4 linked regions of the Homo sapiens genome follow. The protein of the gene in region 3 interacts with the protein of the main gene of each other region in a biochemical or structural test. Each region holds a gene or a part of one and is shown on either strand. Other genes may lie near its edges. The genes, in order: ABCC2, NF2, NHERF1 and EZR.

Region 1 (7,362 bases), on a different chromosome or scaffold from region 3:
CGGGAGGGGTTGAGGCATAAGAATTGCTTGAACCCAGGAGGTGGAGGTTGCAGTGAGCCGAGATAGTGCCACTGCACTCCAGCCTGGGCAACAGAGTGAGACTCCATTTAAAATGGTAGTAATAATGATAATAAGGAGAGATAGAAAAAAAAATAGTGAAAAGAAGCAGATGGAAGATTTTATGAGATAATTTTACAACCTCGAATGAGGGTCTTGGGTTCCCACAAGACCCTTCCCTGAGTGAGTTGGTGCAGCTGGCTGAGGGCTCCTCCCCTCCTGGCCCCTCCTGGGCCTCTCCCGCAGACCTGTCCTTTCCATTATTTCCCTACTCGTGCTTGTCACTGTGCACACTTACCCCTCCTCCTTCTACTGTGAGTGATCATCCTGACTCATCAAATATGCGGGGAAAATGGAAACCTTATTTCGGACCCAAGTTTTTGAAGATGAGTGATAGTTGGATTGCCTCAGTGGGGCAGGAGATCCATTATCTAGCTCATTTTCACGAGGTAGATGCCAACTGAATTACAGTCCACTGATTTATTAGAGCTGTTTAAAGACAGGTGATCCAGTGTTCATTTCTCAAATGCTATAAAGATAATTTGATTGATTATATGCCCTTTGTGTTTAGGGAACCCAATATCCACAAGAATTAAGAGTCACCATTCTTATGCAAAAATCAAAGCCACTTTGATTTAAGAAATGCAGCAAGGGACCCGTGAGGGAAACCTTGAGCCTGGCTCTACCTGAGACAATGGCACCTGGGACAGCTGCTTAAAGACAAGGAAGAGAACACTAACCACCAAGAAAATGTCTCTACTGTGCACCAAGGAATTAGAGTTCAGAAACAGTGGTGTTAACTTTACCTGCTTAGCAAGATAGAGTTTGGTGGTAGAGGATCTCTTGGTCCTGGATTTATACACGTGGAGAAGCTGCCAGGGGGCCAGGAGCCATAGGTAGCCCAAGGGAATCCACACCAGAACAGTTTGCTCAAAACAAAGTGGCAGGTCTGCCTCCGGACTGTCCAGGAATGAGGAATTCTGGAGACCAAAGGGGAAGGATTGTTGCATACATGCATTGTGAAGACAGAAAACCACCCTGCAGCACATCCCACTGCTTTCACACAATTTAAATTCAACTCCATATCCATATCCAGCCTTACCCTTTAACTATCCGTATTTTCCTATTTGTGCACATGGATACAAATTCACCATTTAATGACAAATGTAGTCACTTTCTGGCCAACCCACCCTCCAAAAACGTGTCTTCTTGTGATTCTAAGTGAATTTTGTACCAGCTATTCTGAGTAAACCTCACCACTGCATTTGCCAAATTATAGGATGAAGAAGGACTGTTCCCCAGTTTAAAGGACAGAATAGTTCCCTGGGATATAAAAAATTATTCAAGTTTCTAGCACTAACTGAACTCACTGGCAGATATTCAAACATGCAGGCGCCATGCAGGGAGAATGCTTAGTCATACTGTAACATTTGCTCTCTGATGGCCCAAAGCGCTTACATTAAAAACCTGGCCAGTTTCAGCACAGCAGTGACAACAGCATTGTTGGACAGAAGGCTTCCAACCAGCAAGTTTTGTGCAGTCTTTGCATTCTGCGATAAATGGAAGTGTCTTGTGAAGTGGAAGTTGGGGGGTGGGGGGTGGGCACCAATTCTTGTATCTGAGTCACATGAGTGTGGATTTTTCTTTTCCTATAAATAGTTAAAAATTGTTTTATATGATTATTTATACAGACTCTTTAAAGAATTGCTTGCGATGCCCTGACCAAGAAAGTTTGTCAGGTAGTTCTCAGAAAGAATTCTCAAGAGATGGCCTGTCTAGATACTATAGCCCATGAAGATCCACCTTGCCGTGGTATACACTCCTGGCCTCGAGGGTCTTGGGACCCAGGTCCTTTCTAAGACACGAGGTGCTGCCCAGGTGCTCTGCTATCTCATCCCTGCCCCTCTCACCTCTATATAAGGTTATCAAATGTTAGAATTCAGAAGAATCACTTAAGATACTTAAACTACATTTATTGCCCCAGGTGATTCTGATGCTGAGGCTAGGAGTTTGCAGATGATACTTTCTCACCAAACCCTTACTAAAATCACTAAATCTAAGGTCCTTTTTTGTTTTCTATTCCACTAGACCTTTGATACTGTTGATTGGCCCCTATCTTGAAATTTTTTGCTATCTATGACTCCGTAATGTTACACTGTTCTTGTTCACCCTCTAAGTGGTGTCTCTTCTTTTCCTTAAAAACAATATTACCCAACTCTAGTTGTTCAAAAATTATTTCAATGCTCATGATGCCCAAAGTTGCATCCCTAGACTCAACTTCTAGTCCATATCATTAGTTGCCAGTTCTAGAACTTATCATTATCATTTCAACATCAACATGTCTCAGCAAGACTCAGTCACGGATCTTCTCTTCCTTCTACTAGCAAAGTATGCAACAACAATTCTCCTTCCTCACACGGATTAAATTGGAAGGTTTTTACCTGTTTCTCTTTAGAGAAGGCAATTTTGCGACTAGCTAGTACAAGAGTCTGATATAAAAAAACATATGACAGAGAATAATTTGCATTACATTTCCCAGATCTTATATCCTCTGGAGATATTATGAATTATGCTTTCTAAAAAGCCTGAGCTTTAGACCAATTGCACATCTAACATTTCTGGTTCTTGTTGGTGACCACCCTAAGTTAACTAACTACCACTTGTTCTGAGTCTGAGAAGAGTCAATATGAAGATAAATGTAATTTCTCACCCAAAAAGTAGAGTTGCAGAACTTCTCCAGCATGATTCCTGGACTGCGTCTGGAACGAAGACTCTTCTATTAATATGATTGTGTTGTTTCTTCTTTACTTGTTTCATCAAAGAAAGTGGAACAGGAATTATCTACCATTCTGATGTTCTCCGTAAAGGATGACCTTTCATCCCAACCATTTAATCGTTAACCTTGCCTAGATGCATGTTACATTGAAACAGTGGATGGACATGTGACTAAAAAGCCCTAGGGACAGGGAGACTCACCAGTTCCCAAAGTACAAGAGGCCTCTGTAGGAGTGGCCATACATAAAAGGAACCACTGAAAGATGTCAACAGAGCTGGCCAACAAATCAAGAGTGCACAGTCTTTCATTTTCCTAAGGACATATGACCCACAAAGGGCAGCATCAGTAGAGGGGCAGGCACCCCTAAATGTGCAGTTTCGCTTCTGCTGCAAGATCTTAGAGTTTATAGAAATGTGAAATATCCTTCTTCCTTAGATTTTTAATTAAAAATATAGAATCTAAAACATGGTTTAAACATGATGTAAACTTTCTTTGAAGAAGTCAGGTTATAAAATAGCTTATCCAGTGTGAGCCTATATGTTATATACATAATACAGGCTTTCAAAAGTTCTATTTGCCTGAGAGGTAGTATGCCAAATGGGAATGAAGCCTTTGCCAGGCATTGTAAATATGATATCATGATAAAACATCAGGGCCAGAGGAGAGGGGTGATTCTGTAAACAGAGTGGTGGCATCAGTCGCTAGAAACTGTCATCGACCCAACCTTTTCTTTTTTTGTTATTGTTTTTTGTTTTTTGAGACAGGGTCTTGGTCTGTTGCCTGAGCTAGAGTGCAGTGTTGCCATCATGATTCATTGCAGCCTTGACCTCATGGGTTCAAGCGATCTTCCTGCCTCAGCTTCCTGAGTAGCTGGGACTACAGGCACATGCCAACAAGCCCAGCTAATTAAAAAAATGTTTTCTGTAGGGACGGGGTCTCACTATGTTGCCCAGGCTGGTCTCAAACTCCAGGCTTCAACAATCCTTCTGCCTTGGCCTCCCAAAGGGCTGGGATTGCAGGCATGAGCTACCGTGCCCCACCTGACCCAACCTTTTGTACTGTCACTTAAATTGCTTTAAGAACATGCTTTTTTCATGATATCATGAACCACCCATGCGGTATCCTAGCTAAAACATAACCACCCATGCAGTATCCTAGCTAAAAAAAATTGGCCTTAAATCTGGTCAAATTCTAGATCTAACTACCGGATTATAAGAAACACAGGAACATGCTAAAGGACTCCATTGGAATGCAATTGTCAAAATCCAGAATGTGGGAGATTCTATAGTGCAAATGATTCCATTTTTTAATAAATAAATTAAAAGAAGGAAAGGAGTCAAAGGAACTTACAAATTACAAGAGAATCAAGAGGCATATCAGCCAAATGTGAATTGTATGGACCTTGTTACTGATTTTAAAAGTCAAGTATACACATAAAAAAAATGAAAAGGCAGCATTCAGTGTGGGAGAAAATATTTGCAGACCATATAACTGATGAAGAGTTAATATCCACAATATACTATAAGGAACTCATACAACTCAATAGCAAACATACACTAACAAATTAAAAAGTGGGCAAAGGACTTGAACAGACACTTTTCCAAAGAAGACATATAAATGGCCAACAGGTATATGACAACTGAATCAACTTCACAAGTCATCTGGAAAACACAAATCAAAACCACAGTTAGATACCACCTCATACCTATTAGGATGGCTATTACAAAAAAAAAAAAAAAACAACAAGATAAGTGCTGGCAAGGGTGTGGAGAAAAGGGAACCCTAGTATACTGTTGATGGAAATGTAAATTGGTCTGACCATTATGAAAACATATGGCAGTTTCTCCATCATTTTCCATACCACTCACCAGAAGAGCCAGGAAAGGTCAGCTGTGGAACTAAGAGATCTCACTTGGGGCAGGGTGCACCTTTAGGCTGCATACTTCTCTTGGCACTGGTGGTAGGACTCGGAGTCCGGGGGAACTCTTGGTAAAACTTTGAGAAATATAAGGTCAAGGATTAACACCTAATTTTCTTTTTTTAATTTTTTTGTAGAGCCTCAAACTCCTGGGCTCAAGCGATCCATTCGCCTCGGCCTCCCAAACTGCTGGGATTACAGGCATGAGCCATCGTGTCTGGCCTAAACGTTCTAAGTAATCAAAAAAAGAGAGGGTGGAGAATCTAAATGTTCATCAAAACAAGTTGCTTAAAGTATAAAATATGTACTCATAGGGAATATTGAATGAGAAAAGCAAGTAAGGAGCCAGGAAGTCATGAATCTTTCCTAACAATAACTAAAAATCTGAACAAATAGAAAAATCAATAACTCTTCTTAGATCTGTAGAGAGATAAGGTTACAGGGCAAACTGAAGAGATAAACAAGAGAATATCAAAAATCACAATTTACTGGCGCAGAAATCTCAGCAGGGGCCGGGCGCGGTGGCTCACGCTTGTAATCCCAGCACTTTGGGAGGCCGAGGCGGGCGGATCACGAGGTCAGGAGATCGAGACCACAGTGAAACCCTGTCTCTACTAAAAATACAAAAAATTGGCCGGGCGTGGTGCCGGGCGCCTGTAGTCCCAGCTACTCGGAGATGCTGAGGCAGGAGAATGGCGTGAACCCGGGAAGCGGAGCTTGCAGTGACTTGAGATCACGCCACTGCACTCCAGCCTGGGCAACAGAGACACTGTCTCAAAAAAAAAAAAAAAAAAAAAAAGAAAAAAGAAAAGAAATCTCAGCAGGAACCAGGGCTAGGGCAGGAAAACCTGAACTGTAATTGAATTGCCGGAGGCCCAGTGTAGATAAGTTTGAGAGAGAAAAATTCCAGAGTGACTCAGCCATAAGGAGGGGATGATCTCCACACTTTCATGAGTTTACCCATAGGAATTCAAAGAGGTTCTCAAATATTGTTCTCTTTTTATTAGAGAAAAATCTCCTCCTGCTTCCATGTCCCTGGCAGAGGGGATAGGAAAAGTAACCATTTGAAATATACCTGGACACTCTATTCTTCTCTTCTAAACAAAGTCTGCCCTTGGGAAAAACTGTTTAAATAGAGCCTAATGCTCTTGATTTATAGGAGCCTAAATGATGCCGGAGAAGGGAAATAAGAACTCCAGTCTCTTCTAGCCTTCCACATGAAAACTGAAAATACCCAGCTGCAGCCCACTCTAGCCATCACGTCCCACCTAACAGGGATCGGGGCAGATAGGAACTGAGAAGCACTTGTGAAATTCAGTCTAGAGACACAGGTTTACTAAAAGACTGAGACCTCTTCACAGAACTATAGAACTCTTCCTCTCCCCCTCCCCCACTGTATACCACACTACTAAAGGTCTAGTTACAGCACTTCCTTTTACTCCGTATATCCTGTCCAGCTATGAAGAAAACATTGCCAGGCATACTAAAAGGCAAAAAAAAAAAAAGAAAAAAAAAAGGCTTTAAAGAGACAGAGAGCAAGCCTCAGAACCAAACTCAGATATGACTGGGATGTTGGAATTATCAGACCAGAAATTTAAAACAACTATGATCACAATGCCAAGGGCTCTAATGGATAAAGTAGACAGCATACAAGAACAAATGGGTCGATGTAAGCAGAGAGTTTAAATTCTAAGAAAGAACTAAAAAGAAATAAATACTAGAGATCAAAAACACTGTAATAGAAATAAAGAATGCCTTTGATGGGCTTTTTGGTAGACTGAACAAGGCTGAAAACAGAATATTTGAACTTGAAAATAACTGCCAAAACTGCAAAAATAAGTAAGACTATATAAACAGAATCTCCAAGAACTATGGGACAACTACAAAGGGTATAACATATGTGTAATGGAAATAGCAGGAAGAGAATAACCAGAGAAAGGAACAGAATAAATATTTGAAGCAATAATGAAAGAGAATTTCCCTCATACTAATTTCAGACACCAAATCACAGATCACAGAAGTTGAGAGAACACCAAGTAGAACAAATGCCAAACAAACAAACAAAAGCCCTACAACCAGGCATGCATATATAAGTTGCAGGAAATCAAAGATAAAAAATTCTGAATGAAGCCCGGGGAAAAAGACCTTACTTGTAGAGGAGAAAAGATGAAAATTATGTCCAACTTTTCCTCAGCAAGCATGCAAGCAAGAAGAGAATGGAATGAAATATTTACAGTGGTGAGAGAAAAAAGCCACCAACAGCCAGCATTCTGTACCCACAAAATTATTCTTTAAAAGTAAAGAGAAGCCAGGCACAGTGGTGCGTGCCTATAGTCCCAGCTATTCAGGAGGCTGAGGTGGAGGGATTGCTTGATCCAAGAGTTTGAGTCCAGCCTGGGCAGCATAGTGAGACACTCTCTCTCTCTCTCTCTCTCTCTCTCTCTGTCTCTCTCTCTCTCTATATATATATATAAAATAATAATAAATACATAAATACATTCTCACACAAACAAAGACTGAGGGAATTTGTTGCCAGTAGACCTGCCTTGCAAGAAATGTTAAAAGAATTCCTATAGAGGAGTGGTCCCCAACCTTTTTGGCACCAGAGACC
Region 2 (7,024 bases), on a different chromosome or scaffold from region 3:
AGAAGTAAGAAATCTGAAAGTGTCAGGGAATATGCAGTCTGTGGGCCCTGGCAGAGAATAGCAGGAACACTGCAGATCGGCACTGCTTACAGCACAGCAGAGCCACAAACCTGGCATCTGGGCAACCACAGATCAGGTGGACAGACACTGACCTTGGAGCCAGATCTGAAATTTAGAATGTGAGTAAGTCAATGACTTACCTTCCAGACCTTAGTTTTCTCATCCATCAGGTGAAACTAATGATATACCTTCTCCATCTCAGATGAAGGGACGTATATTACACCTTACAGTCTTTGTATGCAGTAAACTTCTTTTGTGAATAGGAGGTCTTTTATATTGGGGTAGAGGTCTCAGGGAAAGTACAGGGCCAGGAACTGAAGGAGATTACCTGGCTTTTTTTTTTAATAAAAGGGTCTTGTTCTGTCACTGAGGCTGGAGTGCAGTGGTGCCATCATAGCTCACTGTAACCTCAAGCTCCTGGGCTTGAGCAATCCTTCTGCCTCAGCCCCTCAAGTAGCTGGGACTACAAGTGCATGCTACCACACCTAGTTAATTTTAATTGTTTCGTAGAGATCAGGTCTTGCTATGTTACCCAGGCTGATCTCAAACTCCTGGGCTCAAACATTCCTCCTACTTCAGCCCCCCAAAGTGCTAGGGTTACAGGCATGAGCTGCTATGCCTGCCTGGCCTGACTGGGCTTTTTCTTTCTTTCTTTCTTAGTTTCTTTTTTTTTAAAAGAATTGTAGATATGTAGTAAGCCACCTTATGGAAATTGTAATATGATGGAAATTAGAGAACAAATTGGCCAAGCTTTTCATTGACTTACAAGGAGAAAATTGGAGAAGAACTTTCACTGTTTTATTGCTTGTCTTTGCATTATCTTTTTGAGCTTGTGTGTGTGTGTGTGTGTGTGTGTGTGTGTGTGTATTTGGCTTAGGATTTAGAAAAAGCAGCAGTCTTAGAAACCTTGTATGACCAGAGTGTGGGATAAGATTGAAGCAAGAAGTAATTAAATGTGCTTTAATTATTTAAGGCAGAAAATAGTGCAGTGGTCACTTCTGGGTTCTGCTTTTTGAACTCAGTTAGTACCCTGGGATCACAGAGGAATGGCACTGTCTTGTGCTTGTTCCCCTTATTAAGCTCAGCATGTGGCCCAATTAATGCAGTGATCCAGAAGGCAAGGGAGGTAGTGGTGGCTTTGTGCTGTTGCCTTAAGGACACGGGGCTGTGTTTCCCGCCTGGCTCCCTCCTGTCCTAGGCCTGGCTCAGGAGTTGTCTCCACATGAGGCTGTGCAAGTCTGTGCTGTGGCTGTTGCAGCTCCCCCCTGTGAAATACAATGTGTGAACTATTGATGCATCACGTAGAATGATTCCATCTTCTCTGTGGGTCAGAGGCAAGAGTGGAGCTATTGTTGATGAAATCAGAGATGTGAGAGGGGTCCATGTGGATTAGAAATGGTGAGATGGCTTGCCTGCCCAGATGAGAAAGCTGCTTATTTCTGGGGCTCTATCTGAGGGAGGAGGTCCTGCATTGCATCCCATCGGCCATGGGGCAGAGCCACCTGGGGTTTCCCAACAAAAAGCAACATTGGCAAGGTAGCCATTTCAGTGCACCGTGTATAAGAATGCCTCCTTCTGCCAGGCGCGGCGGCTCATGCCTGTAATCCCAGCACTTTGGGAGGCCAAGGTGGGTGGATCATAAGGTCAGGAGTTCAAGACCAGCCTGGCCAATATGGTGAAACCTGATCTCTACTAAAAATACAAAAATTAGCCAGGCATGGTGGCGGGTGCCTATAGTCCCAGCTACTCGGGAGGCTGAGGCAGGAGAATTGATTGAACCTGGGAGGCGGAGGTTGCAGTGAGCCGAGATCGCGCCACTGCACTCCAGCCTGGGTGACAGAGCAAAACTCTGTCCCCTCCACCAAAAAAAAAGAATGCCTTTTTCTATCCGGGTCAAGACTCAACAGGTTTTTATTGTTTGTTCATTTGTTCATTCACCACTAGACTGTTTTTCAAGTGGCACAGCTTTCAACTCTGCAACTGGTTTAGAAGGACGGGGTGGGGGGCAATAAGAATGACCCTGGCTACCTAAAGGAAAGGGAAGGAAAAAGGTCCCAAAAGGGGAGACTGGAGATGGGGCATCTTTGGGCCCTTGTGGCACCCTAGGTCTCGAGCCCTGTGATTCAATGACTGTTTTTCTTCACCCCTCGCAGATGGAGCGGCAGCGCCTCGCTCGAGAGAAGCAGATGAGGGAGGAGGCTGAACGCACGAGGGATGAGTTGGAGAGGAGGCTGCTGCAGATGAAAGAAGAAGCAACAATGGCCAACGAAGCACTGGTGATTTCTGAGGGGCTGGGGTTCCAGGAGGCTACTTGGGGACTTCCTTGGCTTTTCTGGAGCTTGGTCTCCTGAAAACCATGAGTTAGCAGCGTTTGCTTTGAAATACTTAATTTCAGCTTTGAAAAAATCAGTGCCTTTTCTTTTCACCTGTGTTGGCAGAAGCAGATTTAGGTTGAGCTTATGTGCAGCCAAACTCCACTTTCACCACGAGGTTGCCTTTATAGCAGGGCTTCTCAGCCTGGGCACTACTGACATTTGGGGCTGACCATCCTTTGCTGTAGGAACTAGATCCCAGTAGCAGCACCTCACCCTCCATTTGTAACAATCCAAAACATCTTCAGACATTGCCACATGTCTCTTTTTTTTTTTTTTTTTTTTGAGACGGAGTCTCGCTCTGTTGCCTAGGCTGGAGTGTACAGTGGCACGATCTCAGCTTACTGCAATCTTCACCTCCCAGGTTCAAGCAATTCTCCTGCCTCAGCCTCCTGAGCAGCTGGGATTACAGGCATGCATCACCATGCCCAGCTAATTTTTGTATTTTTAGTAGAGATGGGGTTTCCCCATGTTGGTCAGGCTGGTTTCGAACTCCTGACCTCGTGATCTGCCCGCCTCAGCCTCCCAAAGTGCTGGGATTATAGGTGTTAGCCACCGTGCCCAGCTGTACTTTTATTTTTTTTTTTTGAGATGGAGTTTCACTCTTGTTGCCCAAGCTGGAGTGCAATGGCATGATCTTGGCTCACTGCAACCTCCGCCTCCTGGGTTCAAGCGATTCTCCTGCCTCAGCCTCCCAAGTAGCTGGGATTACAGGTGCGCGCCAACACATCCAGCTTTTTTTTTTTTGTATTTTTAGTAGAAATGGGTTTTCACCATGTTAGCCAGGCTGGTCTTGAACTCCTGACCTCAGGTGATCTGCCCGCCTCAGCCTCCCAAAAGGCTGGGATTATAGGCGTGAGCCACCGTGCCCCACCTGCCACATGTCTCTTGCAGGGGACAAAAAACTCCTCTGGTTCTAACCACTGATTTAAAGGGAAAGAACAGAGTTTAAGTTGTTTTTCTCCACGTGAAGCATAAGCCTGAGCTGAGGTGGGTACTCAGAGAAGGTGCTCTTGTTACTCCCCATGGGTGCAGCCCGAAGGGCCCTTCTGAAAAGTTGGGGAATGTGGCTTGTCATTTCTTGTCAGAGGGTCATGGAGGGCACTCAGCAGCAGGGCCCCAGGAGTCCGAGACTCTGGTTTGTCCCATCTCAGTGTTCAAGGCAGATCTGGGCGGGAGAACAGCACATGATCCCACTTCAGCTAAGAGCACTGTGCCCTCCAGATGCGGTCTGAGGAGACAGCTGACCTGTTGGCTGAAAAGGCCCAGATCACCGAGGAGGAGGCAAAACTTCTGGCCCAGAAGGCCGCAGAGGCTGAGCAGGAAATGCAGCGCATCAAGGCCACAGCGATTCGCACGGAGGAGGAGAAGCGCCTGATGGAGCAGAAGGTGCTGGAAGCCGAGGTGCTGGCACTGAAGATGGCTGAGGAGTCAGAGAGGAGGTGAGGGGGCACCGGGCACCAGACTGGCGAGGAGGCTGGCGAAGGGCCGCAGACCAGCCTGCCCTGAGGCTGAGCTCTACAGCAGTTGTCCTCAAGCTGCTTGCCCATCTTCTGGGCCGTGGGGAGGCTCCTCCTTGGCTGATGGTGACTGGTGCTTTATCCATTTTGGGGCTGGCGCTACTGGTTGGGCACAGGAACTCAGTTCCCCCTCCAGGGGGGCCTCTCTGGTCATACTTGTGTCTCTTTGATAAGCCCCTGTCCCTCTGATGGCCGTGTGTGCAGGAAAACCCCTGAGCATATCCACAGACCGCTTTCAGCTGAAGAGATGTGAGGAGGCTCTTTGTGCATTTAAAAAAAGTGTGGTTCTTTTCTGCTTTCATTCAGTGGGGCTGCAGGAGAACAGCAGCTGCCTACCTTTAAAGGGAAGCTAGTGCCTGCATCCCCCAGCCTTTCTTGGCACATGGGGGAGGAGGGCTAGGATGATCTCTGTGACTGGGATGTCCCACTCATGGCCAGGTTGAAGGATGGAACTGTTGTCTGTACTTTTGAAAGACTATTCTAGGCCTGCAACCTTCAGATAAACACTGACACATTCCCCACAGCTTTTGGCTCTGTTGATTTAGAGCACTTGAATTTGGCTTTTAGCTACCAAGGTGCATTCACTACAGTTTTCCTCACCACGCTTTGCATGTCGTTCTGGGAATATGGTTCCTTTTTGCCTGCCCTGCTTCAGGCCCCTTACTGTATTCGGGGGTCACTCCCTGTGCATGATGCAGGTTGGGCCAGGTCCCTGCACCAGGCCTCACATGCCGTGACCACCTGAGCCCCATAGGATGAGGATCTGCACCAGGGTGCGGGTGCCCTCAGTGACTGGGCTCATCTTTCTGCTGGAGAAAGTGGGCACAAGGCCCACTGGTGTTTTATCCGGGGGCTGTGAAGACGCAGTTCTTGCACATTCTGCCCTTTGCGATCCAATATAAGAACTTTGATCCTCCAGGTTCTTCCTTTGCCCAGCTCACTCTCACCCAAAAATAAAGCAGAGAAAGCTGCTGGTGCCCTCTCCAGCTCCTCTGTCTCCTGGCTGCAGAAGGTCTGGTTTCTCTCATTCCCCACCAGTTTTCCTGCTCTTCCAGTTTAGATTTACCAACTCAAACAAAAGTCCTCAGGAATGTTGTCCTTGCTTGGAAGTTCTGATTTCATGTAAATATCCCTGTCTCACTGTCCTTTTTCACCTCTTTGGGTGCCATCCTCAGGGTTAGCCCAGGTCCCTCCTCTGCAGGGGTGGGGTGGTGTCTTTTCCTGCTACCTGCCCTCTTCTGTGAAGCTGACATCTCATCCTTTCCTTGCAGGGCCAAAGAGGCAGATCAGCTGAAGCAGGACCTGCAGGAAGCACGCGAGGCGGAGCGAAGAGCCAAGCAGAAGCTCCTGGAGATTGCCACCAAGCCCACGTACCCGGTGAGCCTGGGGGCCACCAGCTGGGGCTGCCTTAGTCCTGGTGATGTTCTCTTTCCTCCCGGCCCTTCAGTTCATCTGGCGGTGCCTTCAGGGTGACCATTCAGGCAAACACATGGCTGGATGAGAGGTGCAGAGAGCCTGCAGTTAGGGACTGGGTAGAACATCCTGGTCTGCCATTTGGCTTTGGACTAGTTAGTTGTCTCTTTGGTTGCCTGGATAACAGGCAACAGGGCCTTTTCCAGCTCTGGAATGTTTTTCTTTTTCTAAGTAATATAGTCCCAAATTATCCTCAAGAGAATTTGCTCTCTTGCCTCTTAATGCTGAGCTGAATGTAATCTTCAACTATCAGTATATACCATATATCATAATTATAGTTCTGGGAAGGGATTGGCTGTACACCTCAGAGTGAATTACTGCCGTGCAAGAACGAGCAGCCACTCTCAGTTTGGGGACAGAGAGTCAGACTTCCATTAAATGGGGTCACAAAATGAATAGAAGCCTCTTTCCTTCCTTTCTTCTGTGCATTCAGTTTGGCATTTTTTTTTTTTTCATATTTGTTCAGTGTCCACATAGTGCCATGCAGTTGGAAGTCTCTATCCTGACAGGTGTTCTCAGGGTGCACAGGTGCCTAGAGGAGGAGGACACAGCCCACCCTGGAGGAGCAGGAGAGGCTCAGTGTGGTGTCTACACTGATGCTTGAAGGGGGAGCAGGAAGTAGCCAGGTGGAGAAGAGAACATAGGGTATTCAGGGTGAGGGCACAGATGCACACATGGCCCAGACTCACACACAGCACAGTCATCTACATGGCACAGACACACACACGTACCCATACATACATTGATGCACATAGCACATCCACACACACAGCACGGACACACACGCACCCATACTTACATTCATGCACATGGCACAGGCACATACATGACCCAGATGCACAAAGGGCACCAGAGGCACAAGCTGCCCAGGGTTTGAGGTGGGGAAAATGTAAGCAGTTTGCTGTTGCCGTATATCCCGGTTCTCCGTTACTGTGTAACAACCCACCCAAGCCAGCTGTGTGGCTTTGTTAGTACCTCTGGTGGCTTGTTGGGTTGACTGGGCCAGACAGAGATCCTTGCTGGGGATCTCTCTGGTGGTCACAGTCAGATGGTAGCTGGGACTGGAGTCGTCTGAGCAGTCAACTGGGCTGAACACCTGAGATGTGTTATGTTTTTATTTTTTATTTTATTTATTATTTTTTTTTTTAGAGAGAGAGAGTTTTATTTACTCTGTCACCCAGGCTGGAATGCGGTGGCAGAATCTCGGCTCACTGCAACCTTAGCCTCATAGGCTCAAGCGATCTTCCCGCCCCAGTCTCCTGAGTAGCTGGGACCACAGACATGCACCACCACGCCCAGCTAATTTTTTTTTTTATTTGGTAGGGACAGGGTTTTGCCATGTTGCCACAGCTGGTCTCAAACTCCCGAGCTCAAGTGATCTGCCTGCCTCAGCTTCCCAAAGTGCTGGGATTATAGGCATGAGCCACTGTGCCCAGCCTATATGTGTTGTTTTTAAAATATACACTGGAGCAAAGCTTATACACTGCTGTAACTGCTCTTTCCTCTTAGCAGTCAATCCTGAAGGAGATCATCCATATCAGCTTTTTAATCATGTTTTGTTGTGTGGATGGATTGTAATTTATTTAACCAGTCCCTCAT
Region 3 (7,024 bases):
AGGAGGTGGAGGTTGCAGTGAGCCAAGATTGTGCCATTGCACTCTAGCCTGGGTGACAGAGACTGTGTCCGGAAAAAAAAAAAAAAAGGCCAGGCGCGGTGGCTCACACTTGTAATCGCAGTACTTTGGGAGGCCGAGGTGGGCGGATCACAAGGTCAAGAGATCGAGACCATCCTGGCCAACATAGTGAAACCCCATCTCTACTAAAAATATAAAAATTTGCTGGGCGTGGTGGCGCATGGCTGTAGTCCCGGCTACTCAGGAGACTGAGGCAGAAGAATCACTTGAATCTAGGGGCAGATGTTGCTGTGAGCCGAGATCGCACCACTGCACTCCAGCCTGGGTGACAGAGCAGGACTCCATCTCAAAAAAAAGAAAAAGAAAAAGAAAAAAAGAGAAAATAATCCCAACTCCTATTTGCCAATCAGGAAATGAGGGGGGACGAGAAGGCTCAAGGGGTGTGTCCTGGGTATCCCCTCCCCCAGCCAGTGGGAAACCTGGAGGGGTCAGAGGGAGAGAAGACAGGTCTGGGGTCACCTTCACTGGGCTCACTCAGGGTAGGGGTCCCACATGGCTTCAGGGGTGGCTGTTCCATCTCCAGGGACTGGTCAGTGTAGGGCTTCTTCTGAACTCTTAGCTTAAAATTCCTGGTTATCTTTTCCCTGTCCCCAGTCCAGGACACAGCCAGAGATACCTGACTCTCATCTTCTCCTCCCTTTTGACACCCACAGCCTTCCCCGGGCAAGGACAGGCTGCTGGGACACAGGGTCACTCACTGTCCCCTCCCCATCAGCTCACAGTGGTCAGGGTGAAACCCTGGCAGCCGGAGAGGGGGGCATTCCTCCCTATGGAAAGGGTGAGGATGCCATCCTGGAGGGACTGCGGGGAGGGGACTGTCCCCAGGCCTCTCCCTCTTCAGGTCCTTTGGCCAGAGGCTGCAGCCCCTCTAGCCCGAGAGACAGGCAGAAGAGGGAGGAATGTCTGAGGGGGCCAATTACCTGCAGGGTGAAGGGGTGGGGGAAGCAGGGGACAGTATCCCAGGAGCTGAGTGGAATCCAGATTCCAGCTGTGTCTTCCTCGTATCAGATCCCTAGGAGGAAGGCTGGGGCTTCTCTGGGCCTTAGTCTCCCCCTCAGTGGAGAAGGGGATTATCTGAGTTACCTGGTTTCCATGAACTTGGGAGATAAGGGTAAGGCGGTACCCCACCTCCCATGCCCAGAGCCAGCTAGGGACTTCCAGGGGCCATCCCCTCTTCTAGGAGCCTCAGGCCTTGGATTGCGCCAGAAGGGGACAGGGCCTCCCCAGTGGGCCCTTGCAGCTGGCGATGGGAGTCGCAGGACCTTTGTGTGAATCTCCTTTTACACATACAACCTTGAGTCTCCAGGAGGCCCCACCCACTGCAAAGTCCCAAGAGGTTCCACCCTCAGTATGGCCCAGTGAGCACCCCTGCCCGCTCCAGGGAGCCATCTTCCCAGGGAGAAAGTCCAGACCAAGGAGCAGAGCATGCTTAACCCCTCCCTGCCCCGGTGCAGCAGCCCTGCCCTGTTTGGCTCGGGCCTGGGCAGGGGGAGGCGCCAGGCTTGGCAGGGTGATGGTGGGGGATGGGGAGGGCAGGGGCCCAGGGATTGAAGGGGGACCCACTACTCTCTAGAGCCAGCAAGGCTGAGTTTCCAAGACAACCTGAGAGGAGGGAGGGGGAGGCACCGGCCCCCGTCACTGGACTCTGATCTGACCAAGCAAAGGCTGGAGGCCTCCCCGGAGTTAACCCTTTCCTCACATTGACACTGCCCTGAAAGTCTGCTGGTGGGGACAGGACTGGGGGCTTGGGCCTCCTTTGGGGCTGCAGCTTTGGCCGGGAATAAGAAGATCTGTCCATCTCTCTCACCGACCTCATGCCAGCTGACCCCATCACAAGCCGTCCTCAGAAACCCACTGCCACTCCCTACACTAGGCCCCCGCTCCCCCAGCCCACACCTCTGGGCCTCCCATGAAGGAGGAGGAGGGAGCACCCATGCCGGGAAGCTGCCCACCCCTCGCCTGGGACCCAGCAGTCTTAGCCCTGGCTCACATCCCTGACTTGGGGGGCTCCAGCCCCAGGACGGCCAGTGGCCCCACCTGGCTTACCATTCAGGTGCTCCTGAGATGGGATCACTCTGCATTTCTTGAAGAACTCGTCAGTTTCCCTGTCCACCACCAGCAGCTTGGTCTCGTCCCCGCCAGCCCTGATGGCGGACACCACGTCCCCATGCTGCTTCCCCTCCATGCAGACCCCGTTCACCTGCAGGGCAGGGTCGGGGAGGCGTTACGGACACAGGCCTTGGTTCTGGGGCAGGTAAGTGGAGGGGGGTTGGGGGCAGGGGTGACCACCTTGGTTCTCAGCCAGTTTGCAGTTCACAACCTGGGGATACTGACCCCCGCCATTTCTGCAGAGTCCTGAACTAGGCTGGGGGTCCTCCCATTGACAGTCAGCTGGGGAGGCAGGATACATGGGAAGGGCCAACGAAAATATCCAGACGAGACTAAACAAACACAGCTGGGAGAGATGGGATGGGAGCGAGCTGGGAGGCCGGGGTGGGGCCCAGCCTGGGTAAGGACTTGCTGTCCGACTTCCTTCTCTGGGCCTTGGTTTTCTCACGTGTAAAATGAGAAGTCTTGGGAGAGCTGATCTCTAGCTCTAAGGTTCTAAGACTGTGATTCTGGGACCTGCCTGAGCATTTGGTTCACGTTTCCTCTCCCAGGAGCACAGCACCAGAGCCCTGAATGCACGAGTCTAAAAGCCTAACTCGGGGCCGGGTGAGGTGGCTCACGCCTGGAATCCCAGCACTTTGGGAGGCCGAGGCGGGCAGATCACTTGAGGTCAGGAGTTTGAGACCAGCCTGGCCAACATGGTGAAATCCTGTCTCTACTAAAAATGCAAACATTAGCCAGGCGTGGTGGTGGGCACCTGTAATCCCAGCTACTCAGGAGGCTGAGGCAGGAGAATCGCTTGAACCCAGGAGGCGGAGGTTGCAGTGAGCTGGGATTGTGCCACTGCACTCCCCCAGCCTGGGCAACAAAGCGAGACTCCATTTAAAAAAAAAAAAACTAAATAAATAAAGGCCTAACTCAGGAGAGGGGTTTTGTTACTGCCACCCCACTCTGTGTGCCTGGCAGCAGGGAAGCTCTGGAGATGGCCCCAGACATCTCCCTGATCGATGGGTGAATCACAGGCTGCCCACTGTATCTGCTTGGCAAGGAGGAGTCCAGGGGAGTGGAGGTAAGAGAAGAGTCCATCAGTCAGTCCATCTGTCCTTCCGTCTATCCATCCACCACCCTTCCCTCCCTCCCTCCCATCCACCCATCCATCCAGCAGCTCCAGGTTGGCTATGCCCGTGGGCTAATCAAGCCCATGATGGTATGATGGCTGCCCCAGGTGCTGCTGATCTGCAGGGGGTGGGGGCAGTCAGATAGGAAGAGAGCGAGAAGCATCACCTCCACAATGCGATCCTGGGCCCGGAGCCCTGAAGCCTCAGCCGGGGAGTCTGGGTCCACTGACCGGATGAACTGGCCTGGCTTGGACTTGTCGCTGTGCAGGTTGAAGCCATAGCCACTGGGGCCCTTCTTCATGGTACAGAGCCGAGGCCGAAGCTCGCGCTGCAGGGACAGGGGAGGGTCCATGGCTATTCCACAGTGCCCCAGGTTCTGCCTTCCCTGTCCTCTGCCTGTCCCCATCTCCCCAACCAAGGAAGGTTTGGGAGGATGCAAATTTGCCTAGATCCCTACACAGCAATTTGAGAGGGTTCTGGCCCAGGACTCAAAAGACTTGTGTGGATACCCAGCACCGCAGCTAACTGCTTAGGTGATGTGGATAAAACACTGCTCTGTCCAAGCCTCAGTTTCCTCTTCTGCCAAATGAGGGGTAGGACCAGGTTAGCTCTCACATGCCTGTCCCTTCTGACAGTCTAAGGTGAATCACATGCTGTGTTGATCGGGCCTCTATCCCTCCCCATTGGTGGCTCAGTCTGGCCCTCCTGGAGAGGGGGCAGAGTGTGGCACCCGTCAGCCTGGCTGGGGACCTGGGGCATATGACTGAGGACCCCCAGCCCCTTTGTACCCCGTTCTCTGCAGCAGGGGAGGAAGAGGCAGGTGTTTACTGAAAGCTGGTCAGTGTGTTTACAGTAAAGCCTTCCTCCATATACTCGAACTCTCTCTCACCCCCACCAAGCCGAATGGCCCAGCCAAAAGGGAGCCAGAAGGAGCAGATAACCAAAAACTTATTGTTCAGCACAGCAAGGGGACCTGGACAAGACGGGGCCATCCTCAGGCGTTCCAGGACCTCCTCCCCCGACACCGCTGCCCAAGGGCAGAGGTGGCAACGGAAGCACAGAGACCCCAGAAACAGAGGAGCCTGAATGGGGAGGGGACTGGGAAAAGCAGGGCTGGGCTAAAGGGAGCCCAGTGTGGCTGTGGCCTGGAGGGTGTGACCTACTAAAAGGGCACACGCAGATTTCGAGTGCTTGGACTCAGCTGAAAACAGTTTCCAACATGCTTGGTCCAAAGTAAGCAGCTCAGCTTAGAAGCTGCAGGCCTGGACACACAGTATGATGGAGGGAATATGGGTGTAGGCAGCCGAAGCCTGTGCCCAAGGACTACGCCTGAGTCCCTGTCCCTCTCCCCCTCCTCCAGGCCTGGTGCAGGGCCACTGGCTGCTGTCCAGCCTGCTGGCCCTGTGTTATCACTCAGCACATCAGACAATGAGCAGTGGATAGTCAAGGCTCCCAGCCAGGTTCCAGCTCCCCTGTTTAGGAGCTGTGTGACCTGGGGCAGGTCATTTATGGATCATTCTGACTGCCATCTGCCTCCCAGGGTTGCTGAGGCCCAGTGAGGTCATTGACTTAAACACTTTCTAACTGTAAAAAATCCCTGTGCACACCCAGACTTTCCCATTGTTGTGAATACTAATGAATAGTCATAGGAAGCTGGGAGTGAGATTCTGGTGGGGTGGGGGTGTGTGTGCCAGGCTGCTCTGAAACCCAAATCCCCAGCTGGGAGTGGAGAGGGCCGAGAGGGGTGGGAAGGCGCGCCCAGGAGGGCTTATGGGCCTCTGTCCCAACTTGCCAGCCCCAGGAGGCCGCCACCATCTGCAGGAGACTCAATCCCCAGCCTTTCGATCTCTGGGGGTGGCTAGAGGATGACTTTGCATTCCTTTAAAGGCTTGGGCAGGTCTTTCTTGCCTGGGTTTTCATACCCAAATCCAGGCTCGAGGACCCCTCACCCCAACAACAAAGACGGTTAAGTGAGTGGTAAAAACGTGAGTGGCTCACAAAGGCTCAGGAACCCTGAATGAAGCTCCTCTTGCCTTGTTCTCCCTGGCCCACCCCCTGCCTCACTGCAGGGCCCACTCCCAGCTAGTTCGGCTGTCACCTGCCCCAGGCTCACCCCCCGGCACTCCCACAGCCCTGTGGGATCTTGTTCCGGGAGTAAGTGAGGCTCTTCTCCCCTAGAGCTAATCCCTCCACAAAGCTCCCAGCCAGGCCCTCCCCCGGGCCGCCTAGGTGAGCAGAAACAAGTCTGACCAGTCGCCGTCACCAGGACAGGCGCAGCTTTCTGCTTCAGCCAGACACCCTGAGAAAGTGGGGAGGGTGAAATCTCAGGACAGGCAGGGGGCAGCTCTAGTGACCTCCTCCAACCTCCCTCCACCGTCCCTGCGCTCCCAAAAACCTTCCCATAACAACCTGACTGGGGCTTGTCAGCTGTTTTTGAGATGGGGAAACTGAGGCTCAGAGATGTGGAGCCCACTGCCTGACATCACACAGCCAGAACTCCAACCCTGGTCTCTGACTTGGAACCTGTCCTCCTTCCACCACACTGCAGGGTGCTCCTTAAGGATCCAAGTCCAGAATGGGGCAACCCATTGGGAGGTGAGGACCCAACAGGAGTCAGGCAGCAGAGGGCAGACAGGGGCTCTCTCCAGGGCATCGGCTGCAGCCTCTGCTGGAGGTAGGCTGGGAGCTGAAGAAACCACAACCTACCACAGCCTTCCTTCCGGGCGCTCAGGGCCTCTCGCAGCTGGAGCTGCAGCCTGAGCTGGGGGATGAAGCCTGGTGTGGGTGACAGGGCAGGGGCATGGCTGGACTGGGGGCAGGTGGCTCTGGGCGCCCCCCCCGGCTGGCAGGGCAGGGCTGTGCTAGCTGCCTTTGGGATGCCCATCCTCTGGCCCTGGTCTCTGTGCTGTGGGCTTCCCTTACTGATCTTCAGCCCAGTGCCCCTCGCCTAGTGACATATGGTGCCAAAGCTCCAGGGCCTGCTTTGAGCCTTGCTCCGCTCTGCCAGCACCAAGTCGTGCAGTTCAAGGGGAAACAGGGTACCCAGCCTGAGGGGCTCAGGTGCCCTCTGTTTCCTTCCCCTGCACTGGGACCTGCTCCACTGTTCTGTCTAGATGTGGCTCTGTGGCGGCTCCAGGACCTGAGGGGGTGGCTGGACAAGGAGATGGGAAGCCCCCGGTAGACCCCACCAGCATTTAGACAGCTCCGATGCACCTGCAGAGCCTCCTTCCCAAGTCCCTAGAGACTTCCTCCCCTCACATGGGAAGGGGGGTTCCCACTCTTCAAGGGAGACCAGCCTTGTTCCTCCTCACCCCTCCCTAGCAGGAGCCTCCCAGCTGTCTCCAGGAGGTGTCAGTGCCAGTTGCTGAGTCAGCCCATCAAGCCAGCCCATCCCAGCCTGGGTGGAGGCTGGGGCTGGCAGGGGAGTCCCTTGGGGCAGCCCCCCTGGGGATCTGTGGGGCCTGGCCTGTGGTCTCCAGGCCCAGCACTGAGAGGAGAAGATGGGGAGGTGTGGGGTACCTGGCCGAGCTCAGCCACCATTGCTCTTGGACCCTCACCGCCAAGCTGGGGCAGGGCTGGGTTCTGCCTCTGGGGAAAGGGGATAAATGGGAGTGACGTCCAGGCATGTTGGGCTTGGTGTGTGGCCCCCAGGATCTTAGGAGGAGCCAGCTACAGAGGGGTCCGAAGCATGGTGGGAGGAGGAGACTCAAAAGGAACAT
Region 4 (7,024 bases), on a different chromosome or scaffold from region 3:
CATCTTCTGATCCGGCTTAGTTTTTAATCACAGCTGTACTGTTAAATTTACTACCAGGAAGCATCTCAGTTGCCTTTTTAACCCTTTCCTTCACGTAAATGTAGGCTCACCAGGGTAGGAGCTTTGCCTTGTTGATGGTGCACACAGCCCTGGAAGAGTGCCTGGGACAGCGTGCCACCAGCGAATGTTTCTTTTGCTTACGAGATGGCTTCACATGAGGCTACTCTATAATAAAGGCACATGCACGAGATGCGTTACAATGGCTTCTGCTTGGGGCTTATTATGAAAATATTCTTCAGCTTTTCAAGAGATGGACTTATCATCAAACACACACACACACACACACACACACACACACACACACACACGCACAAACATTCTGAAACAGTCTAGTCCAGAGCTGCTGCTCTAGTCAAATTTTTAATAAGTGTTCTGAAAAGGCAGTAGCGTCACAGAGTACGTAGTAGCCTACTGATGAAGAGATTTCAGCATTTTCTTGCTCTTCTAAACTGTGCCAATCTTACTACCCAAGTGACATGAAGACGCTATGACCCTCCATTCATGCTGTTGCATAATATGAACTGCTGCCATGGAGCCTTAGAGTCTGCATTCAATACGCGTTTAATTTTAAATAACCGTGCAACTACCCACAGAGTAGCAGCCAAGAGTTTGCAAACAGCAGGAGCCCTTTTTTTTTTTTTTTTTTGAGACGGAGTCTAGCTCTGTCACCCAGGCTTGAGTGCAGTGGCGATCTCAGCTCACTGCAACCTCTGCTTCCTGGGTTCAAGCGATTCTCCTGCCTCAGCCTCCCGAGCAGCTGAGATTACAGGCGCCCACCACCACGCCCAGATAATTTTTGTATTTTTAGTAGAGATGGGGTTTTCACTGTGTTGGCCAGGCTGGTCTCGAACTCCTGACCTCGTGATTCGGCCATCTCAGCCTCCCAAGGTCCTGGGATTACAGGCGTGAGCCACTGAGCCTGGCCAAGACGTTTTTAACAAAGAAGAAAATACTTTCACAAAATTGTCAAGACCTGCTGATTTTAAATTATGCTAGACAAACCTGTATGTGGGGAGAAGTAACAGGACAATAACACCACATACTGTTCTAAGTGGATTTACCATTGCTAAGCAGTACCCAGTCCCAAAAGGGTTAACAAGACAACCAAGGTATGGACCACAGCCCATGTTTGCCTCTCCAAGCTTAACACTGTAACTAAGGAACCAAAATTACATGAGAACACAAAGTCCTTTCCAATCTATAATTTTCGTAAAATTCAGAACAGGCTCTAAGGTGGTAACAGAATTTCTTCAGGTGGCAATTTTTTAGAGAACTAGATTTCTGATTAGATAACAAAATCCTTACCCATTCTACAATGCTACAGTTATGTGCGTATGTCTCAAATATTCTGAGTTAACAAAAGTTTAAATGTCAGCAGAATAAATAAAACCAAATTTACATAATGCACTGGTCTTTGCAGCTATTACAATCAATACTATCAGATTTCAGGACATAAAGTGTCGCCTTCTTACCATGTCCTCCCAAAATGACTGCCTGCCAGTGTCACCTGTGTGAGGATGCACACCTCTGACAACAGAAGTGGGTGAAGCCCCGATGAAACCTTGGGCACCAGCAATGCTTGGGTGCAAGTCTGACTGTCCCTATCTTGGGTAAGTTCCAGGACAGCTCTGAAAGGCAAATCTGGCCCTTGAGACTCGCAGGTCCCACTGTCCGTCAGGTGCCGGGGAGAGTCCCTGCACCCAGGTGGTCAAGGGGACAGGCTGGCTCTCCACACCAAAAACACAGCATTTTGGGAAATGCTTATCATTTGGCCAATGGCTCAGAACTGCCCTTTTCTTCATAAGGAATGAGAATCATTTGAAAAGTTAAGTGGTCTCCCCTGCAGCAATTGCCTGGCCCACAGGATCTCTGGCCCTCAATGTAACCTCATGAGGAGTTTGGACTATCACTGGCTACTCGTCACAGTATAACTTGTCCGTTACCCTGACAAGTATAAGAATGAAAAACAGTAGCCCCTGAATAGAATCCTTTGGAACTTACAGGTGCCTTCTTGTCGATGGGTTTAATGACAAACTTTTTGTCATTGAAAGAGATGTTCCTGATTTCACTCCAAGGAAAGCCAATCTTTGGGGTTAACCTGAGGTTAAAAAGAAGAAGTGGATGGTTAGATGTATACATATGTTCTTGGATTGGCTAAGAGAGATTCGCAAATCAATTCTTATTAGTTCAATTAAAATAATATGAAGCTAACCCAAGAGGCACAATGTGTTATATGCTATTATCAAATAGTTCCCACCTGTCCTAGGTTAAGCCAAGTGGTTGGCTGCAAGGCATCTGCAACCTTAATCTGTTCCCATTTCCTTTGGTTTTTCCTCAGTCTAGGGCACCTATGATTACCCAGGCTGGTGATCTCGAGGTCAACTGAAATTCCTACCCAGGTACCTTGACCCTCCCCCTCAGGTATCTTCTGCTGTTCATTCCCACATCACATCACCACACTCACCTACCTCTCATCCTGCCAGAGCCCACTCTCAAGCTGTGTGCTGGAGCAGCCCTACTTTCAGTCTGCTGATCTGATTAATTTCCTCTCCTCCCATGTCAACACAGTCCTTAACTCAGCATCCAAGAGCTGTCAAATCCAGCCCCAAACTCCACGGTTCAGACCCACCTTTCAACACACAGTTCCCCAGGGCTGCCTCCCTTTCCCTTGAGGCCTCTCTTAACATACAGGCTCTTCTGCTACAGACTGTTGAATGTTATTTAAGTTACTGATCATTTAGTTCTATGAAACCAACAGGGAGGGCCAAGATCCCATCACGTTCCTAGACGTGCCATACTCAACAGAGCTTGCCAAGAGAAACGGACAGAGGCCTTGCTATGCATTCTGCTCCTCTGGTTCTCATTCCAGTGTGTGTTCTCCTGGCTGGACAGACATCTTCCCATGTCACTCTCCAACTTCCAGGACAGCCTTCAAACTAACCGCCCTAATGAAGGCCCCACAGGGCTAATCCTACTTAACCAATGCAATGCCATGACTGGCCAGACTCTGGCTTTTATTAGCATTCCCAAGTTCATCATGTGACTTCAAGACCACATTGCTCTGCTCACCTGACACTTCCCACCCTATTCTTCCAACACATTTTACCAGGGATAATGCCATTCTGGAAATAACGACAAATCCTCAAAACCACCATCCAACAATGCTGCCCTCCAAAGCAGTCCTTTCCAACATCCCACAAAAACCTTCATTTTAGAAGTAGCAGGAAGGTCAAGCAATCTATGGCCTACCAACAGCTTCAATACTGATGAGCAATACAGGTTTCGTTATGATCACATCAACTAGATCAAGGCAGTGGGGTGGACTCTGTAGGCTGAGGGCAAACATGTAAGCCTGACATGGCCCTTCTGGGGAATTAGCGCAGTCAGTCATGGTGTGCCTGCAGGAATGATGGCAGGACACTGGCCAGACCATGGTTCTAAATGTCAAAGCTTTTGTATACATCCTTTCTTTTACAGTGCTATGCTCTAGAATCACCAATCCCCATTAAAAAAAAACACACCTGGCATTCAAACAGACATGCAATGAGTTTGTTCTTTTATCTTCGAGATGTAATTTTCTTTACAGGTTTCAGAGCATTAAAGGGGAACTCCAGATACCACCTTGCCCTGCTACTGACTTCAGCCTATGTCCTCCTTACATTGAAAGGCTGTGAAAGTGGCACCAGGTAGGCATGTGTTGCTTCTGGAGCACTTTCTCCCAAAACACAAGAGCAGCCTGCTGGCACCAACAGAGAAGCTAGGATCCAAGCTCCGGAGGCTCCGCCCACAGCACATAGCACTGTGAGCCAGCGTGCCGCATCCTGAAACTTCAAGGGGCTGGGATCCCCTCTCCGGCTCCTGTCTCTACACAGGACTCTCAAAACAGGTTCTGACCTTAGAAAATTTAGGCCTCCGGCTCTCTGGTGTGCCTAGAAAGTTTTTCCTCTTAGGACTTTGAAACCTCATATAACAATTCATAGCCACTCATAAGCATAACTGCAGTATCAAAACAAAAAGGTTAAACATGAAAATTATGACTCACTTTTGAGTTAAAGAACTTTTAATTCTTGACCAAAGTTGGAAAATTAAAGCCCAAGGATTTCCTTTTTCCTAAGAGATCACATATAGGACATGAACAGGGTCTACAGAGAAGGTGGCCACAGGGTTTATAAGTGTCCTTGCTTAGGCCACACATTAAAAAAGCGTGATTCTCCAATAACAGGGACCAGACAGAGGCCTTTGGAGAAATGGCTGATTCCAGGACTAGAACAGGGAACACAAAGGATGAACCTGGTGCATCTCGAGGAGCCAGGCAGCAAGGAAGCCTGCAAAGAATGCAGGGCTCACACTTCAAGGTGCTCCTAAAGGCCAAATCTCAAACAACCTGAGCAAGAAGATACATACTCATAGATCATAACCCAAAGACCGAAACACATATCCATGAGTCCATATTAATATAACTGAATAAATGGAGAACAGAAATTGGCTCCTTATAGAATTCCAATTAATACACGTAAAAAGTTTTTAAAAATCACAATTTCTCAAATACCACAGTAATCTCATCAATGGTAGCTAGAACTAGGACATCTACATAGTTTAAAATTATCTCCCCCAAATATACTGACCAATTGTAAAGGGAAGGATAGTGATTTTACAGTGGAGAAACGTGGCAGACACCACCTTAACTAATAATCAAAATTAGCACCACCTAAGATAAGATATACCGACCACATGTGCCACCTTGAAAGAGGTCCTGGAAGGGCAAAACAGCACTTTATTCTTACCAAAAATGTAAAACTCCAAATAATGAGAAAACACCAGACAATCCAAGCTGAAGGGCTTTCCAAAGTCAATGGCCAGTACTCTTCAAAAATACCAAGGTCATGACAAAAAAAGACTGGAACTATCCCACATCGAAGGAGACAGGGAGGTCTGACAACTAACTGTGTGGCTCCAGAGAGGGTCCCGGGGCAGAAATAGGACATCAGTGAGACAACTGATTAAAATGGGAATGAGGTCTAGAGACTGCTAATGTTAATTTTCTTATCTTGGTATTTGGACTACGGTTACATAAGGTGTTAATGTTTGAGGAAGCTAAGTGAAGGGTATATGGGAATTATTTGTACTATTTTTAGAATCTTTTTAAAGTTTGAAATAATATATATATTTTAAATTGAGATGGGGTCTTACTCTGTCACCCAGGCTAGAGTGCAGTGGCACAATCTTGGCTCACTGCAGCCTCCGCCTCCCGGGCTCAAGTGATCCTCCCACCTCAGCCTCCCAAGTAGCTAGGACCACAGGCATGCACCACCACGCCCAGCTAATTTTTTGTACTTTTGGTGGAGACGGGGTTTTGCCATGTTGGCAAAGACCAGCCCAGGCTGGTCTTGAACTCCTGAGCTCAAGGGATCTACCTGTTTTAGCCTCCCAAAGTGCTGGGATTACAGGTATGAGCCACCATGCCCAGCCTGAAATGACTTTAAAATGCAAGAATGGGCCAGGCATGGTGGCTTACACCTGTATCCCAGCACTTTGGGAAGCCAAGGTGGGCAGATCATTTGAGGTCAGGAGTTTGAGACCAGCCTGGCCAACACAGTGAAACCCCATCTCTACTAAAAATACAAAAATTAGCCAGGAGTGGTGGCATGTGCCTGTAATCCTGGCTACTCGGGAGGCTGAGGCAGGAGAACCGCTTGAACCCAGGAGGCAGAGGTTACAGTGAGCTGAGAATGTGCCATTGCACTCCACCCTGGGTGACACAGTGAGATTCCATATCAAAAAAAAAAAAAAAACCAAGAATGATTAAAAAATGTAAATCCAAAATATGTAGCTGAGTGTGATAATGTTCTACATGTCTTAAGATTTTGCATTTTTCAGGCATATTTGTCAGAACTCAACAAATGAACACTTAAGATTACATTTCATTGTATTTAAATTTTACATCAAAAGAACAAAACATAACCAACCTCTAGTATATCATATGCACTTTCATTTTGAGGAAGGATATGGATGCCTGCAGTTTTCTTGGAAATGTGTTAGAGGGCCAGAGGGTGACAGTGGAGTGCATACGGAAAGAGACGTGAGAAAGCAAGCGAAGCCCTGAGTACCTATCCGCAAGGAATTTAAAGAAGAGACATGTTCTGTGGCTCCTGTTTCAGTCCCCAAGCTCCCCGTGCACCCTTTCCCTTTAAGGTGGAAGCCCTGGACCTAGTGCATTTCCAGAAACTCCTACCTACAGAAGGACTTCTATGATGAAATCTGCCCAAAGAGGGATGAAGCTAAGGGAGAAAAAGTGCTTTTACAGGACTAAAGATCAGGTTCCTCTAGTTTTTGTTAGTTTTTGTTTTTGGTCCGAGTGTCAGGTTTCAAATTGTAACCCAGCTAAACTGAACTTCCTCTGTTCACAAGCTTACAATGCCTGTCAGGAGGGCGCTTACCTGTTTTTGCCCTCTTTATACTCCCACCTATTCCAAGCTAAGGGTTTAAAGAAAGATGACAAATAGTCCTACATGCTCCCACTTAATGCTTATGTGTACAATGAAAAGGGAACCCCAAGAGACAGATTTCCCAGCCAGACCCTATTTAATACTAAAACAGGTGTTTTAATAGAGACTTTACTTGCAGAGTATAAATCTCTTAGAGCTCAATTTCCATATTCAATAGATCAGCTTTCTCACCTGAACAATGTTTCAGGCATATCTAATTCTCCTAGTTCTACCGAGAGAGGTAACAGCGCAACAGCTGGCGAGTTCTCAGCACTCCTCAGACTTCAGGACAGTCTCCTGCTTATGCTGCTACCAAGTTGTCAATATTTGTTCAAAAGGGAAAGAATTTGGGCCTATTAAATGACTGAATATCTACATAAATGCTTTTTTCATGAAGAGAGGGGTGTGCCTTCAGGAATGGGGAGAAGAGAGGCAGAAAGTGAGCCTGCCCAACACCCCAGCATGCTCTGTGGGGAAAG

Evidence for each region.
Region 1: the proteins of NHERF1 (region 3) and ABCC2 form a complex in vitro, tested with the Homo sapiens proteins (2 studies listed by BioGRID).
Region 2: the proteins of NHERF1 (region 3) and NF2 form a complex in vitro, tested with the Homo sapiens proteins (2 studies listed by BioGRID).
Region 4: the proteins of NHERF1 (region 3) and EZR form a complex in vitro, tested with the Homo sapiens proteins (2 studies listed by BioGRID and IntAct).

The regions. Positions count from the first base shown.
Region 1 is NC_000010.11:99,778,283-99,785,644, reverse strand, and holds the start of ABCC2 (ATP-binding cassette sub-family C member 2), read right to left. Parts: upstream 3,006-7,362; 5' UTR 2,801-3,005; coding exon 2,768-2,800; intron 1,038-2,767; coding exon 864-1,037; intron 1-863. UniProt on the Homo sapiens protein: ATP-dependent transporter of the ATP-binding cassette (ABC) family that binds and hydrolyzes ATP to enable active transport of various substrates including many drugs, toxicants and endogenous compound across cell membranes.
Region 2 is NC_000022.11:29,669,613-29,676,636, forward strand, and holds part of NF2 (merlin), read left to right. Parts: intron 1-2,213; coding exon 2,214-2,336; intron 2,337-3,656; coding exon 3,657-3,874; intron 3,875-5,223; coding exon 5,224-5,329; intron 5,330-7,024. UniProt on the Homo sapiens protein: Probable regulator of the Hippo/SWH (Sav/Wts/Hpo) signaling pathway, a signaling pathway that plays a pivotal role in tumor suppression by restricting proliferation and promoting apoptosis.
Region 3 is NC_000017.11:74,758,621-74,765,644, reverse strand, and holds part of NHERF1 (Na(+)/H(+) exchange regulatory cofactor NHE-RF1), read right to left. Parts: intron 3,634-7,024; coding exon 3,472-3,633; intron 2,279-3,471; coding exon 2,125-2,278; intron 1-2,124. UniProt on the Homo sapiens protein: Scaffold protein that connects plasma membrane proteins with members of the ezrin/moesin/radixin family and thereby helps to link them to the actin cytoskeleton and to regulate their surface expression. Necessary for recycling of internalized ADRB2.
Region 4 is NC_000006.12:158,774,347-158,781,370, forward strand, and holds part of EZR (ezrin), read right to left. Parts: intron 2,159-7,024; coding exon 2,062-2,158; intron 1-2,061. UniProt on the Homo sapiens protein: Probably involved in connections of major cytoskeletal structures to the plasma membrane. In epithelial cells, required for the formation of microvilli and membrane ruffles on the apical pole. Along with PLEKHG6, required for normal macropinocytosis.